Linked DNA regions of Homo sapiens: region 1 is linked to region 2. The links come from fine-mapping of genetic effects on gene expression. Tissue or cell type: whole blood. Region 2 holds a variant in brackets; the other region holds the start of a gene. All regions are shown on one strand. Distances are between the middles of the regions.

What was found. PIP is the estimated chance that this variant, and not a neighbour inherited with it, causes the effect.
Region 1: LINC02724 starts here. The variant in region 2 is fine-mapped to the expression of LINC02724 in whole blood (INTERVAL, PIP above 0.99).

The regions. Positions count from the first base shown.
Region 1 is chr11:64,445,724-64,453,723 of GRCh38, forward strand. It overlaps LINC02724 (long intergenic non-protein coding RNA 2724), which reads left to right and starts at 3,334. Exons shown (of 2, transcript NR_073177.1): 1 at 3,334-3,929; 2 at 4,174-5,934. RefSeq lists an enhancer at 3,673-3,922, a cis regulatory region at 3,812-4,081 and a silencer at 3,859-4,054.
Region 2 is chr11:64,403,936-64,412,194 of GRCh38, forward strand. It overlaps LOC105369341 (a long non-coding RNA gene), which reads right to left. Exons shown (of 4, transcript XR_001748069.2): 3 at 8,225-8,259; 4 at 6,143-6,982. Among named protein-coding and RNA genes, the nearest start is that of LINC02723, 12 kb to the left of the region's middle. RefSeq lists an enhancer at 3,158-3,789. The variant G/T (reference allele first, on the strand shown) is at 3,352.

The sequences.
Region 1 (8,000 bases), 42 kb after region 2:
GCAGACTTGATTCCAGAGAGAGTGAAAGCAATGGCAGCTGATCCGTGGCAGTGCGCAGGACCCAGTAAAAAGGTAGCCATGGTGTCTTTACTTGACCAGCTGGAGCACAGTTTCTGTTCCTGTCTGGGAGGCCTGCAAGCCTGGTTCTCCAGCCCACCCAGAAAGTCTGTGGTGGTACTTGATACTCATCCCTTTTCTGCTTAAATCAGCTAAGGTCAGTTTCTGTTGCTTGCGAGAAAAAACTATCATATTAACCCTCCATCTGTATTATCTGTTACAAATCTTTTTTCCAGTTGTCAGTAGTCTTTCAACCATACATATATATATATGTGTGTGTGTGTGTGTGTGTGTGTGTGTGTATAGTTGTATAGTTATATATATTATATATATAATATATAATAGCTTTCTCAGAGAGAAGTTTGAGATTCTCATGCAGCCGCATAGATCAACCATTTAGTTTCTGGTTTTCAGGTCAGGTTTATTTATTTATTTTTATTTATTTATTTATTTTGAGACAGAGTCTTGCTTTTTCGCCTAGGCTGGAGTGCAGTGGTACAATCACAGCTCACTGCCTCCTGGGTTGAAGTGATTCTCCTGCCTCAGCCTCCTGAGTAGGTGGGATTACAGACGACCACCACTACATCTGGCTAATTTTTGTATTTTTAATAGAGATGGGGTTTCACCACGTTGGTTGGCCAGGCTGGTCTCGACTTATGACCTCAAGTGATCCGCCCACCTTGGCCTTCCAAAGTACCCAGCCTCAGGTCATGTTTAAAAAGGCTTTCCTTAATCCAAGATTATAAATATATTTAATTAAGTTAAAAAACTTAAGTTGTTATTGGATTCAAATATTAATATTTAAATATTTTGTTTAAACGTATACAAAATTAAAAAATTCAAACACTACTACTAGGCTTAAAATTATATAAATAAAAAAGAGTTCTCTGCTCCATTTCTCTGATTCCCAAAACTCCCTCATTAGGGGCACCCACTTTCAGTTTTTGAGTAGATGTTTCATCTTTTTCTTTCTTTCTTCTTTTTTTTTTCGAGATGGAGTTTTGCTTTTGTTGCCCAGGATGGAGTGCAATGGTGCGATCTTGGCTCACTGCAACCTCCGCCTGCCGAGTTCAGGTGATTCTCCTGCCTCAGCCTCCTGAGTAGCTGGGACTACAGGCATACACCACCACGCCCGGCTAATTTTTGTATTTTTAGTAGAGATGGAATTTCACCATGTTGGTCAGACTGGTCTTGAATTCCCAACCTCAGGTGATCCACCTGCCCCGGCCTCCCAAAGTGCTGGGATAACAGGCGTGAGCCACTGCGCCCGGCCTCATCTTTTTCTTAAACCTTCATTTCTAAGTGAAATGGCTTCTACTCTTAATTCCTGATTTTCTTCACTTTCTGATCTCGGATTTGAGATCTCACTTGCTACCATGAAAAATGAGACTTTATTTTCTTACCATCCACACTTCTATTATCTGTCACTGCTCAGCCTCTTTTAAATCTATGGGCCCCCTCTGTCTTTTCTTTTCATTTCTTTTCTTTTCTTTTCAGATGGAGTCTTGCTCACTGCAACCTCTGCCTCCCGGGTTCAAGCGATTCTCCTGCCTCAGCCTCCGGAGCAGCTGGGATTACAGGTGCACACCACCACATCTGGCTAATTTTTGTATTTTTAGTACAGAAGGGGTTTCACCATGTTGGCCAGGCAGGTCTGGAACTCCTGACCTCAAGTGATCTGCCCACCTCAGCCTCCCAAAATGCTGGGATTACAGGCGCGAGCCACTGCACCCCGCCCGTTTTTTTCTTTTCTTTATAAAAGTTGAAATACACTAGCTGTATCTAGTTTCGGGATGTGCATGATAATTGGATACATTCCTATAATCAAATCAGGGTAATTGGGATGTCCATCATCTTAAATATTTATCTTTTCCTTGTGCCAGGAACATTAGGATTATTCTTTTCTAGCAATTTTGAAGTGTACAATCGATTAATGTCACCCTACTGATCTATTGAACACCAGATGTTATTTCGTCTATGTAAGTGTGTATTTGTACCCACTCATCAACCTTTCTTCATCCCCTCCTTTCCCCCTCCCCTTCCTGGCCTCTAGTAAGCAGGTTGCTGTTGCAAATTACGTATTGAAGAAACTGGCGCTTTGTCCTATGGTTGCCTGCAGTCTGGATTTTGCTGGTCACGTCCCCTTAGCTTTGTTGAGCAGGCTCCCCAGTCCCTGTATTTCTTGTAATTTGATAGTTGGCAAACTTTTTCCATAAAGAGCCAGCGAGTAAATATTTTGGGCTTTGTGGGCTATAACAGTCTCTGTGGCAATTCCTCAACTCTGCTGTCACAGCGAGGCCGCAGCCAGAGACAACATGTAAACAGCGGAGCAGGGCTCCGTTCCCACAGCGCGGGATCTGGGTCCCAGTTTGCACAGCCCTGAGTCGAGGGTGGATCCAATCCAGGTCTGATACAGCATTTCAATGGTGATGCCGCAGCCTTCCACACTGAGGCACTTAACACCCCATTGTTCCCAATTGCATTTTAACTGAAAAAATACAAAAAGAGATCAAAACTGAAAGTGCAGTTTCCTCATGGTCCCACCACATTTTGGAGAAGTGTATAAATGGAGAAGTGAAAGCTCCATCTTCTGCCCCTTCCCCATGAGAGAGCCTCTATTCACAGCCAGGTCAGTTTCTTCCAGACTGTTAACATCCGTGTGAGTGCACATGTCTACACTGCGTGGAGCCTGCCTGCTTCCTGCCCCGCAGGCGTGTCTGCTGTGGGAAGGCTGGAGTTCTGACCTTCCCCCTCCCCCTCTGGGTGACAGGTGGCTCAGTTCTCTTCCCTGCCACGTTCAAGACCAGGTTGGGGGAGGGGGTGAATGTCACTATTCCCCTGACTGCCACTGTGGAGAGGGGAGACCCTCGCCCCTTTTCTGAATTTTTCCTTACCCCTTTCCTTGGAATAAAGCAAACACCAGACCCAAATGGATTTTAAGTGACACTTTCCCAAGAGTCTGGAGAGGGGACAGAGACTGGACGTGGTGTGTCCTGCCTGAGCCGAGTCATCTGGTTACGAGGGCAGGGGCAGGCTGGGGTGGGGCTCATGCGCCCCGGAAGCACCCTGGCTCCTCGCTCTCCCATGCCTCTCCCTTTATGTCCTCTGCTGTCCAGCGCCTGGGCCCCGGCCCTCCCTGGGACACCATCCTGCCCTGCCCGAGTCGTGGCTCTCCAGTCTCTTTCGGGGACTCGCCCCTGGCACCCACTAGATGGCGCTCCCGGCCACTCAGCTCCCCCTGCCTCGCTTGGGGTGGTGCTGGACGTCGGGAGCGCTGGCCTCTGCTCTGCTGATTTGCAGGTGGGAGTGCAGGGTGAGCCCGGCGCAGGGGATAGGAGGTGGGGGAGTCGAGAGCTGGAGTCAGGCGCCGCTCACGCTGGGATGACGGAGTGTTAACCTCAGACTCTGGGTCCCTTTGGGCCGAAGCTTTAAGAAAACAGGGGCAGCGAGCCCGGCGTCCCAAGGAGCCTTGCCAAACTGGGCATGGAGAACGGGCCTCCTGGATGGCCACCCGCCCAGCTGCCAAAGAGGCCGGAGAGCTGGAGCCGGGACTTGGAGGATCTTCTTCAGAGAGGCAGGAGGGCGGTCCGAACGTGCCCCCACCCCTGACCTCAAGCCCATGTGGAGAGGGCCAACAGAGCCTCTTGGAGAGCTGGATTTGCGTCCTCTGCAGCTTGGGGGACACGTCGTTGATGGTGACTGACACGCCCCAGAGATAGTGACATGATGATTAAGAGTGACAGCCTGAGGGAGCTGAGCGCAGCATGGCTGGTCTGGCAGCTGCTGTCGGTGTCGCGACCCCACCCCACTTCCCCGGCTCCCTGCCTCCTTCGCTGGAGAAGCATCCTCAGCCAATGGAGCCACAATACCTGGTACGTTCAGGCGACGCCCACAGCCCACGGCTAACTGTACAAAAGACTGTTCCCTCGCCTGCCTCTAGATGGCGATACCTCTGCCCCAGGGCCCCCTGCATATCTGCCAGAGCTGTATTTACCCTGGGACCACGCCTTTACCGAGTCCTTTCTCCTTCCCCGCCCCTCTGCCCTCACATCCTGGGCGGCTTGTCCCAGGATGAGCCCTCCCCTAGTAAATCCCTGTCTTGGGCTCTGTTTTCAGACAGCTGAAGGCAGGGAACAGCAGGAGGGGCCCCAGGAAGCTGGCCCCAAGGACGGGATGCTGCAGGAGGATGCCCCGCTGGCCCCTGGTGACTGGAGCCCGTTGCGGAGGCCCCTGGCACGAGGTGGCAGAGCAGCTGCTCAGGCCTCCGCCTGTGGTCACCTGGGACAGGACTCAGGTGGACGGGGATGCCCGGCTCGTTTAATATCACTGATGTTGAGAGACAGATGGGAAAATAGCCGTGAGAAGGACGTGGAGTGGGGAGGCTGTCACTGAATACTACTGACACTTAGAAGAGGGAAAATGACAAGTTCAGGGCCACGCATCACCAATTTAAAGCAAAGTCAGGATTCCTTGGCAGAATTTAACGAAATGCTTCTCTTCTATAGCCAGGGGTCAGAGGGCAGAAGACAAGGTGCAGGACTCCAGAGAAGGCCAAATTTCCAGCCCAGGGAAGTCCCTTCTCCAAAGTCAGGGCCCCAAAGGGAAGGGTGGGGTCCCTGATATCTGAGATGGACTATCTGAGGAGACACTCTTGAGACATTGAACCCCCAGATTCTCCTGTACCTCCTGGCCTGCAGAAGTGACCCATTGCCTCTGTTGGAAGACAGAGGTCCTCTTTTGCTTAAAGACCATGCAGAAACTAAGGGAAGGGACCTTACAAGATAAGGAGTTCCTCTCTCCAGCATCTGTCCCCACCTCCCCTCCTGACCACCAGGCTCAAAGCTGGATCATATCTCAGCATGACCTGACCAAGGATGTGCTTTGCATGCCAGGGACCAAGAGGGATTAACAAGCAGAGGAGTGGTGGGAGCAAGCCAGCAGGGACCAGCCGGGTCTAGAGAATGTTCCTAGATGTGGACTCTGAAGGTTCTAGATCAAGGGAGGCTGCATAGTAGCTGGAGACTGGAGAGTTAATTAGTACAGAAAGACTCCCTAACCCCTAAAAAGGCCCTGGGAAGATTCTAATATGTTGCTTGGGAGGGTTCTTTTTTTTTGAGACAGAATTTCTCTCTGTCGCCCAGGCTGGAGTACAGTGGTGCGATCTTGGCTCTGCAACCTCCACTTCCCAGGTTCAAGCGATCCTCCTGTCTCAGCCTCCCGAGTACCTGGGATTACAGGCATGCACCACCATGCCCAGATAATGTATTGTTTTTTTTTTTTTTAGTGGAGATGGGATTTTGCCATGTTGGCCAGGCTGGTCTCGAACTCTTGACCTCAAGTGATCTGTCCACCTTGGCCTCCCAAAGTGCTGGGATTACAGGTGTGAGCCACAGTGCCCAGCACTTGAGGCAGTTCTTGAAAGCTTGGAAGAAGTGATAGTGCATAGGCGATGAAGTGGAGATGTCAGAACAGCCCTGGAGGAAGGTATGCAAAGTCTCAGAGAAGTGGACACGCCAGAATGGCTCTTCTATTGTAGGTTGTACAGGAAAACAGTGTGACAAGAGTGATGCCATCTTAAAACCGCCATATGATGATGAATGTTTCACCCCCATATACCAAGCTGCTCTGCAGTAAGCTCTTTAAACAATGCCTGTACCATACATAACCCTTTGTAAAGATGCTTAGCTAACCCCCTCCCCAAGTGGCTATGAGTTTTGCATTAAAATCGGAGATATGGCCACCTGCACATGTTTTACCCTAAAAGCTTGCTACATAAAAGTACTTTCTGCAGGGCAGATGTGGGGATCTACCATTTTGTGGCAGCCCGGAACATCGCTTCTGCTCCTAAGTCCCTATTAAATATTTCTTTACAAGAAACTGGATTTGTCAGCCTCTTTCTTCAGCCTCTCAGCTCCCTCGGCCTTTGCAGGTAGATTTGCACAGACCTGTTCACCACGAAACAGGGTGGAAAACCCACCAGCTGGCCATGTTCTTTGGAAGGTTCCAGCTCTTTACCCAAATGATAAGGCCTGAGCTGTCGAGGAGACATTGGCGTTGCTGAGCAGCCCTGTGAGGGTTGCCCGGGCCTGGCAGGGGTGGGCTGCCATGGATCTGAGCTCTCCCATAGCCACAGGGACAACTGGATTCCCGAGTAGCACAGGTCAAAGGGCAGCACTTAACTGTCTGTCACAAGCAAGGGGGTGAGAGGATCAGAATGGACAGCAGGGTTGGGACAGCCGCGGGGGAGCCTGCCCTGCCCAGCCTATGGAGATGGCTCATAGGACATAGCATTTCCAGGGGGAAGGTGTCTAGGCAGCCGGCAAGGATTTTGTTCAACAAATAGAATGAAAAGCAACCAAGAATCGATGAGCAGAAGTCCAAGGCCGGATGCCCCAACAGAAAGGAATGATCCCCTGCTGTTTCCAAATCTGAACTTGTTCTCAATCTCAGAATCCATCAGTGGAAGAGGGGCAGGTCCCAAGAGGAAGGACCCCGCAGCCATACCATCCCCCAGGACTGTATCGGTTTCCTGGGGCTGCTGTAAAAACCTGCCCCAGACTGGGTGGCTTAAACAATAGAAATGCATTGTCCTGGCCAGGCACGGTGGCTCACGCCTGTAATCCAGCACTTTGGGAGGCCAAGGTGGGCGGATCACAAGGTCAGGAGATCGAGACCATCCTGGCTAACACGGTGAAACCCCGTCTCTACTAAAAATACAAAAAAAAAAAAAATTAGCCAGGCGTGGTGGTGGGCGCCTGCAGTACCAGCTACTCAGGAGGCTGAGGCAGGAGAATGGTGTGAACCTGGAAGGCAGATCTTGTGGTGAGCCAAGATCGTGCCACTGCACTCCAGCCTGGGCGACAGACCGAGGCTCTGTCTCAAAAAAAAAAAAAAAAATGCATTGTCTCCCACAGTTCTGGAGACTGGAAGTCCAAAATTGAGGCATCAGCAGGGCTGGCTCCCTCCGAGGGCCGTGAGGGGTGTCTGCGCTGCCTCTCTTCTAGCTCCCTGGCAGTCTTAGGCGCTCCCTGGTTTAGAGATGCATCACCCCGACCTCTGCCTTCATCTTCCCGTGATGTTCTGCCCATGTGCTTACTTGTCTCTGCGTCCAAATTCTCTCCTTGCCCCACCCATTTTTTGTTTTTTGAGACAGGGTCTCACTCTGTCTACACTCCAGGATGGAGTGCAGTGGCACGATCATGGCTTACTGCAGCCTCGACTTCCTGGGCTCAAGCGATCCTCCCGTCTCAGCCTGCTGAATAGCTGGACTATAGTTGTGCACCACCACGACAGCCTAATTTTAGAAATTTTTAGAGATGGGGTCTTGCTGTGTTGCCCAGGCTGGTCTCAAACTCCTGGCCTCAAGGGATCCTCCCACCTCCAATTTCCCCTTTTTATAAGGACACAGTCGTAATGAATTAGGGCCTATCCTAATAACCTCATCTTAGCTTGATCATCTGCAAAGACTCTATTTCCAAATAAGGTCTCATTCACGGTCCTGGGGATCAGGATTTCCCCAGTACCGGGGGAATGGTGGAGGCATGATCCAACACATAACAGGGAACTTAGCCATTTTCTCCAGCAGCCGTACACTGGGAAGAGGGCATGGCCAGCTCTGGTCCTGTGGGAATTGGGTGGATGGAGTTAGAAAAGCAGGGGATTTATGGAGGTAGTACCTGTGACAGGTAAAGGAGGGGGCAGGAGGGGGCTGGGGACTTTCAGGCTCTGAGGAGGGTCTGACACCTGTGAGAGGAGATGAGGAAGGAAGGAGGATTGGGTAGGAAAAGCCTTGGACTGCAGTGCAGCTTGGAGGGAGTCTGGCCAGCCCAGCAGGGGCTCTGGAACCAAGATTGCTCAAAGAGGAGTCCCACGTTGGGAAGGAATGCCAGGGTCTCCTACCCCTGCTGCAGGTAGGCACTGGCTGGGAGCTGCCTGGGGCAGCA
Region 2 (8,259 bases):
GGCAGCGGCAGTTCCTTCCTGCAGTAGCTGCTGGATCCAGTTTGCAGTTTTTCCAGCAGGCACACCAGCCCCTTCAAACCCCTCTGGAGACATCACAGCACCTGCTGACCCTGTCTGCTCCTTAGAGGTCTGCATTCTAGCCTTCCATGTTTTCATAATTCCAGTCCCTTCTTCATTCCTCCAGCCCTGGGGGTGTGTGTTGCTTCCTGGAAGGTTCTCCCCTTAGAGTTCTCTTTTTTGCATTTTTAGTTTTTCAATGCCTAGTTAATAATTTTTTATATTAAATTTCCTCTGTTAACACAACACATGGTTTCTGTCTCCTGATGGGACCATGACTGATATAGACCTGGATCATTGCAGATTCTGCCTTGTGGATTCCCCATAATGAGAGAGATAAAATAATTAGAGTCTGATTTTGCCGAAAGTACCTGTTGTTCCAAAAAGCCCTCCCCATCCTCAGCCCAACACCTTCTCCCTGCCCAACATCTAAGCCAGTCGTGACTGCACCCAGAGTGCTGCTTGGCTCTGAACCCCCAGCTCCTAGGATGGACCAGGCACATCGCCTCAGGGCTCAGACCACTCCTGCTTCCCCACCTAACATCACAGGGTCACCGTGAAATTCAGGGTCCAGCCTGTTCTGTGATTATCTTTCTGGACTCTTCTCACAACTGCCAAGTTTTCTGTAACCACTCCTGGGGTCTCCAGCTCCTTAAAGGAGGCCCCCCCACAATGAGAGCTTCAGGAGGAGGGAGGCTTTTGAGGAGCACCTGTCCTGGAATCTCCCGGGTGGGCCATTCCAGCTGACTCTGGAGGTGTTCTAGTTACCCCTGTTAGATTTCTCATCTCCAAGTCACCTCCCCAATCCAGTGACAATAAAAGAAGGCTTCCTTCTCCTAGTTCCTTCTGCCAGGGCACTTAGGAGGGTGGGATGGCAAAATTTCCCTTGCCCCCATTCCTACCTGCCTCCCCTGACCTCTAAGGGCCCAACTCTTCTCCTAAGGCAATTCCCCTCTTCCTCCAGTTCAGCCAGGATGACTTCCTTAATTTTTCAGTCACTTTCTTCTTCTTCTTTTTTTTTTTTTCTTTTTGAGACAAAGTCTCACTCTGTCGCCCAGGCTGGAGTGCAGTGGCGTGATCTGGGCTCACTGCAACCTCCACCTCCTGGGTTCAAGTGACTCTCGTGCCTCAGCCTCCCGAGTAGCTGGGATTACAGGCGCCTGCCACCACGCCCAGCTAATTTTTGTATTTTTAGTAGAGACAGGGTTTCACCATGTTGGCCAGGCTGGTATCAAACTCCTGACCTCAGGTGATCCTCCCACCTCAGCCTCCCAAAGTGCTGGGATTACAGGTGTGAGCCACCGCGCCGGGCCATTTTTCAGTCACTTTTTCCCAGCTCCTGTTCTGGCTGTAACATTTGTTTTTGAGCCAATTCCATTTCTGCTTGAGTCTGTATGCACAGCTAGTAGCTGGTGACAGCGTCCTGCAGGAATGCATTCACATCTCCTTCTTAGCTTTCGGGTTTACAATAATTACACTAATTTGCCTTTCAGAGACAAAAGAAGATAGCGGTTAAGAGGCAGAGTCCAGAGCCGGACTGCCTAGGTTAAAACTGTGGCCCCTTCCACCAACTAGCTGTGGGACCTTGGGCACATTATTTATTTATTTACTTTTTTTTTGAGACAGGGTTTTGCTCTGTCGCCCAGGCTAGAGTGCAGCAGCATCATCATAGCTCACTGCAGCCTTGACCTCCTGGGCTCAAGTGATTCTCCCACCTCAGCTTCCCAAGTAGCTGGAAATATAGGGGCACACCACCACGGTCAGCTAATTTTTTTTTTTGTAGACTCCCACTGCGGTCAGCTAATTTTTTTTTTTTTTTTTTTTTTTTTGTAGACAAGGAGTCTCAGCATGTTGCCCAGGCTGATCTTGAACTCCTAGGTTCAAGTGACCCTCCTGCCTTGGCCTCCCATAGTGCTGGGATTACAGGTGTGAGCCACCACACCTGGCCTGGGCACATTATTTAAGGTCTTCATGTCTCAGTCTCCTCATCGCAAAATGCATATAATAGATTACCCTATCTCAGAGGCAGGGTGTGAGGATTTGATGGGCTAACCCACAGAACGCTGAGAAATGTCCCCGTCACAAAGCAAGCACCCACTGAGTATTCACTGTGATCATTATTCTTGACTTCACCCCAAGAAGAAGACTCATTCCCCGGAAGGGAGTTGAATCAAATACACATTTAGCTTTTGCAGATTGTATTAAATGTAGCTGGTGGAAAAAGGAGAAAGAATCATTTACATATTGCTGAGCTCCTGTTGGAGGCAGGTCCCTCAATGGGCCTCCTGGAGTGGGCAGGAGAGGCCCCTCTGGGATGCAGCTCCCTAGCATGACCCCAGGGCCAGCGTGTCACAGCTGACTGCCAGTGGAGGATTTGCAGACCACGTTTTCCACATAGTGCAGCCTCAGTGCGAGCCAGCTGCAGCCCTGGAGGGAAGCCCAGCTGTGCCGGACTTCCTGAGAGATGAGGACTCCAAAATAGCATCTTCCAGAGGGATTTTTCGAGGGTCACTGATTCCACGTGATTTTTGCCTCCTGCTTTGGAATCTAACTCTGTGTAATGCCATGTATACAGCAGGGGCCCTGTGGAGTAAGGGGTTAACTCAACAGGCCTGGGCTGCCCAAACCCTGCACATTCCAAAGAGAGGACTGGCCCTTGCCTGGCCCCTGGGAGATAAGCTCTGCGCCCTTGGAATATCCTGCCTAACAGGAGTGTTTTTTTCACCTGGGGCCTTGGGCCACCTGAGACAGTTTATGCCAGCAATGTGATTTATGGCGAATGCCTGTTTTTTTTCGCCTGGGGCCCTGGGCCAGGCTGTATCAGTCTGCCTTAAGCTAGGGCTGGAGATGAAATAGTTAAGGTCAGTCACGTGGGTGCCACATGCCTCTATGACTGACCCCTAATAAGACTTGGGACATTAGGGCTTGGCTGAGCATCTCTGGTTGCAATATTTCGTATGTGTTGTCACACCTCTATGGACTGAATCTCTGTGTCCCCCTAAAATTCTTTTTTTTTTTTTTGAGATGGAGTTTTGCTCTTGTTGCCCAGGCTGGAGTGCAATGGTGCGATCTCAGCTCACCACAACCTCCATCTCTTGGGTTCAAGCGTTTCTCCTGCCTCAGCTTCCCGAGTAGCTGGGATTAACAGGCATGCGCCACCACACCTGGCTAATTTTGTATTTTTAGTAGAGACAGGGTTTCTCCATGTTGGCCATGCTGGTCCCGAACTCCCGACCTCAGGTGATCTGGCTGCCTCGGCCTCCCAAAGTGTTGGGATTACAGGCGTGGGCCACT[G/T]CATCTGGCCTGGCATCCTTTTTCTAAAGAGCTCCCCACCTCCATTCTATTAGGCTCAGGGGTCACAAAACCTAGCTCCACCCGGAATTCCTGGCCTCTGGAAGGGCCGGCTCAGGAGAAGGGCCCATGGGCTTCAGGGTAAATCCCGTCCCTGCCAAAGGTCAGAGTTGAACCCTTGGGGCTTTTGCAATTTAAACTCCAGGTTTGCTAAGCTGACTTAGAAATTGAGTGAGGAGGGAAAGCAAATTAATGAGCAAAATTCCGCAGTGGACTCCCAGGGCCTCGCGCCCCACAAAAGACCCACGCACCGAGCTTGGACTGGGTCTCAGCTCAGGGGCCTTCTGCGCTTGTGGAGTGTGAGCTCCTGGACAAGCCTTGACTCATCCTAAGATGAAACCCTTCCCCTGTGTGTGTCTGTGTGTGTGAGTCTATGTGTGGGAGTGTGTGTGTCTGTGTGTGTCTGTCTCTGTGTGTGTGTGAATGTGTGTGTCTCTGTGTCTGTGTGTGTGTGTCTGTGTTCATGTCTGTGTGTGTCTGTGTATATGTCTGTGTGTGTCTGTGTATATGTCTGTGTGTCTGTGTATGTGTGTGTGTGTCTGTGTCTATGTGTGTATGGGTGTGCCTGTGTGCCTGCGTATGTCTGTGTTTCTGTGTGTCTCTGTGTGTGTGTGTGTGTATGTCTGTGTGTGTTTTCCTAAATTCTTTGTTTTTCTGTCACTCCATCTGCTGTGGCACACCCTTCAATATCAGCTGGAATTGCGATAAAAGCCAGTCGCATCCTGCACAGGCTCAAGACCTGTAGGTGGCCAGAAACACTGATCCTTCCTCATAGTCCTCAGAGCCCCAAAAGCCAGTCCTTCCAAGGTTTGTTTTTGTTTTTTGAGATAGGATCTCGTTCAACAGAACAGCCCAGGCTGGAGTGCAGTGGTGGCAAGATCACGGCTCACTGCTGCCTCAACCTCCCAGCCTCAAGTGAGCCTCCCTCCTCAGCCTCCAAATAGCTAGGTGCACACCACCACACCAGGCTAATTTAAAAATTTTTTTGTAGAGTTAGGGTCTTGCCATGTTGCCCAGGCTGGTCTCGAACTCCTGGGCTGAAGTGATTCTCCCACCATGGCCTCCCAAAGTGTTGGGATTACAGGTGTGAGCCACCTCGCCTGGCCCCGATCTCTCCATATAAGGACACTCACCCCATCATGAGGGCTCTTCCAAGAGCTCCTAAAGGGCGTCTTGGTCATTGAATGAGAGTTACAGATAAAGATTCTTTGCTCGGCCAAACTTTAGTCAGGCTTCTGAATCTTCTGCTAGGCCCATCTGTGCACTTCCTTGTAAAATGCAGTTCTAGGCCAGGCGCGGTGGCTCACGCCTGTAATCCCAGCACTCTAAGAGGCTGAGGTGGGCGGATCACTTGAGGTCAGAAGTTCGAGACCAGCTTGCAACATGGTGAAACCCTGTCTCCACCAAAAAAATACAAAAGTTGGCTGGGCGTGGTGGTGCATGCCTGTAATCCCAGCTACTTGGGAGGCTGAGGCAGGAGAATCACTTGAACCCGGGAGATGGAGGTTGCAGTGAGCTGAGATCATGCCCCTGCACTTCAGCCTGGGCCACAGAGTGAGATTCCGTCTCAAAAAAAAAAAAAAAAAAATCCAGTTTTAGCGAAAGAACCCTGGCCTGTGTCAGCAAGAATCCTGTTAGGTCGGGTTAAGCAGAATCTCCCCTACCCCTTGGTAATTTTCCATCCACTGACCCCCACACTCCTTGGCCATAAATTCCTACTTGCCTGTGCTATATTCAGAGTGGAGCCTAATCTCTCTCCCCTACCGCAAGATCTTATTGTGGGGGTCCCTGTATCAATCTCCACGGTCCTGGATAAAGTTGGCTCGGCCATGCTTTACCAATGTCATGGAATAATTGTTTCTTTAACATTCACCAAGGCCTTCTTGGTCATTGCACCGACAGCTGGAGATCCGAGGTGTTGATCACTCAGCATCGCCTCCTCCACGGTCACCTGAGAACAGATTCCAGGACCCAGGGGAGGGTTGCGGCTAATGAGCAGAAGCTCGATGTCAGACTTCTGGATCATCGGACCCAGGGTCTCTGCCGGCCACTCTGAATTAAGCGCTCCTGTTCACAGGCAGATGGTGCAGACCGTGCCCCTGGGGCTCAGGCAGGTCCAGAGAGAGGAGAGAGCAGAGAGCAGGCCCCGGCCTTTTCTTGTAGTACTCTTGCCCCTCCGCCCCTCCGTCCCCCCGCCCCCACCACCTCCGGGTGCAGTCGGACTCCCGAGCTTCGCGCTTCGCATCGGATAAATCACTGCACCTCTTGGGAGCTCAGGGAATGAGGGCCTGCGCAGCCGGGCCAAGGGCACCAGGACTTTGTGAGTGGGGAAGGGAGTGGGAATCCTTTCAACTATGGCTGAGGCATTTGCGGGAAACAGTTCATTCCCCAATCCCCCTCGCTATCCCCCACAACTACTGAGCTTCCTCTCCCTCCTCCCGGCACCCCCTCTCCCCTCCCCGCCTCCTTCTCTCTCTGGTTCCTTTGCACACACCAGTCTTCTGCCTACAGGCCCTTCCTCTCCATCCTGGCCTACGAGACTCCTGCGCACCCCTCAAGAATCTGCTCTGTCCGGCTCCGGGAAGTCTTGCCACACTTTCCAGTGGCTTAGGGGGCCCCTCCCTGTTCATCCCCCTCCCGCCTGTTCTTCCCCCTCCCTCTTCTTCCCCCTCCCTCCTGTCTCTGGCTCATTTCATGTAGTTCCCATTTGATTTCTTCTTGCACACCCTTTTCAGTTTATGTTCTCTTGCTGTATTTTATGAATGCTCATTAAGCCACCTTAAATCCCATCTGGAATGACTTGGGAGGGGGCCAATGCTGCTGCCCTGTGACTCTTGAGAGTTTGATATAAGACGACCACAGCCGCCAGCTGCAGCCCACGTCCTGGGACTGGAAGATCTCATGATTAGCTCTCCTGGCTCTGCACCAGCTGCCTAAGAAACGTGAGCCTTCTCAAGCTGCCGCCATGAAATATCTGTCCATAAAGATGACTTTTATGGGGAGCCGTGCTGTGGTTCTGAAACGAGATTGACACCTTAGCTTGGTTCATGCATATAGCACTCCTGGGAATTATGTGGAAGAAAGGTCTGGCCATGGGGCCGGGGTCGGGGGAGGCAGGCGAGGTGGAGGTGCCCAGGGTGTGAAAACTGAGGAAGTGATGACTCTCAGGCTGTGCCAGAGCTGGGTGGACACTGCCTGGCCCCACGTGATGTCCCCCAGTGTGTCCCCTCCCTGCCTCCTGCTGTCTCATCCCAGATGAAGGCTCTCACTTCCACGCCAGGCTCTGCCTATCTCAGGATGAGACTGTCAACTCCGTCCACAGGAGATGCCACACGTGTTGTAAACAGATGTGACTGGCATAGAATATTCCCCAAGTCTGAGTTGTGTGGTTTTGAGTGACACATGTCCTGAATGGGACACTCCTATCCAATCCAGATCCTTCCATGCAGCCTCGCCTCCATGCCAGCAGATCTGCTGAGTTGTCTTTGCATTCTTGGTTTCCTATCTCCTGGATAGGATGGATGCCTGTCTGACACATGCATGTGTACACACACGCACACATGCACACCCACCTCTGCAAAGCAAATACAAATACATGGGCTTAGGTGAATTGGAATCCATTCATTTGTCAGATATTTCTTAGGCATGTTCTCTATGCTGGGCACTGTCCCACACAATGAGGACATAGCAAGGAACAAAAAAGGGAAAAGTCCCACCCTCATGGAGCTTATATTTTGGGGTAGGAGTCAGTCCATAGATACAAGCCTAAGGAATAAAATATGCCATATGCTAGGCAAGACTACATCAAGGAAGGGGTGGGAGTGTTGGGATGGAGCTGAAACTTCAGGAAGGACCAGCCAAGGAGGCCTAAAGGCATGAGGAAGTGAGCAGTAAGCCCACAGATGTCAGGACAGGAGATCCAACAAAGAGCTGGGGGTAGCAGGTATGTGGGGGCAGCAGGAGGCCAGTGGGTGGCCAGAGAGAGAGAGAGAACCCAGGATCACAGTGGGGACAAGGTGGGGGAACACAGTGGCCTGGTGGGTTGTAGGAAGGACTTTGGCTTTGACCACGATGCGATGCTGCTTGGGGAGGTTTAAAGCAGGGGCAGGGCGGGAGATGGGACCTGACTTTCGATTTAACAGGATCCCCCTGGCTGCCTCGAGGAACGCAGGCCTCTGAGGGTCGGAACTGGACTGGGAGGCTGGTCAGCAGGCTCCTGCTGTCCTCTGTTGGGAGGTGACAGTGGCTAAGACTGGCATGGAGGCAGCGAGGTGGTGGTAAGTGACAAATTGTGTGTGTGTGTGTGTGTGTGTCTTTTTTTTTTAATTTTTAAATTTTTATTTATTTATTTTTGAGACGGAGTCTTGCTCTGTCACCCAGGCTGGAGTGCAAGATCTCGGCTCACTGCAACCTTCGCCTCCCGAGTTCAAGCAGTTCTCTTGCCTCAGGCTCCCAAGTATCTGGGATTATAGGCGCTTGCCACCATGCTCTGCTAATTTTTGTATTTTTAGTAGAGACAGGGTTTCACCACCTTGGCCAGGCTGGTCTCCAACTCCTGACCTCAGGTGATCCGCCCGCCTCAGCCTCCTAAAATGTTGGGATTACAGGTGTGAGCCACCGCACCCAACCTAGATTCTGGGTATATTTGTATATATTTTGAGTGCAAAGCTGATGGGATTGACTGACAGGTGGGATGTATGGGAGTGGGAGAGAAGCCAAGGAAGAGCCAAGGCTGATTAGTTGGTTTATTTATTCGGGTAAAATTCACATAATGTTAATTTAACCATTTTAGAGTGTATTCAGAGGTATTTAGTACCTTCACAGTGTTGTTCCATCATCGCCTCTGTCTCA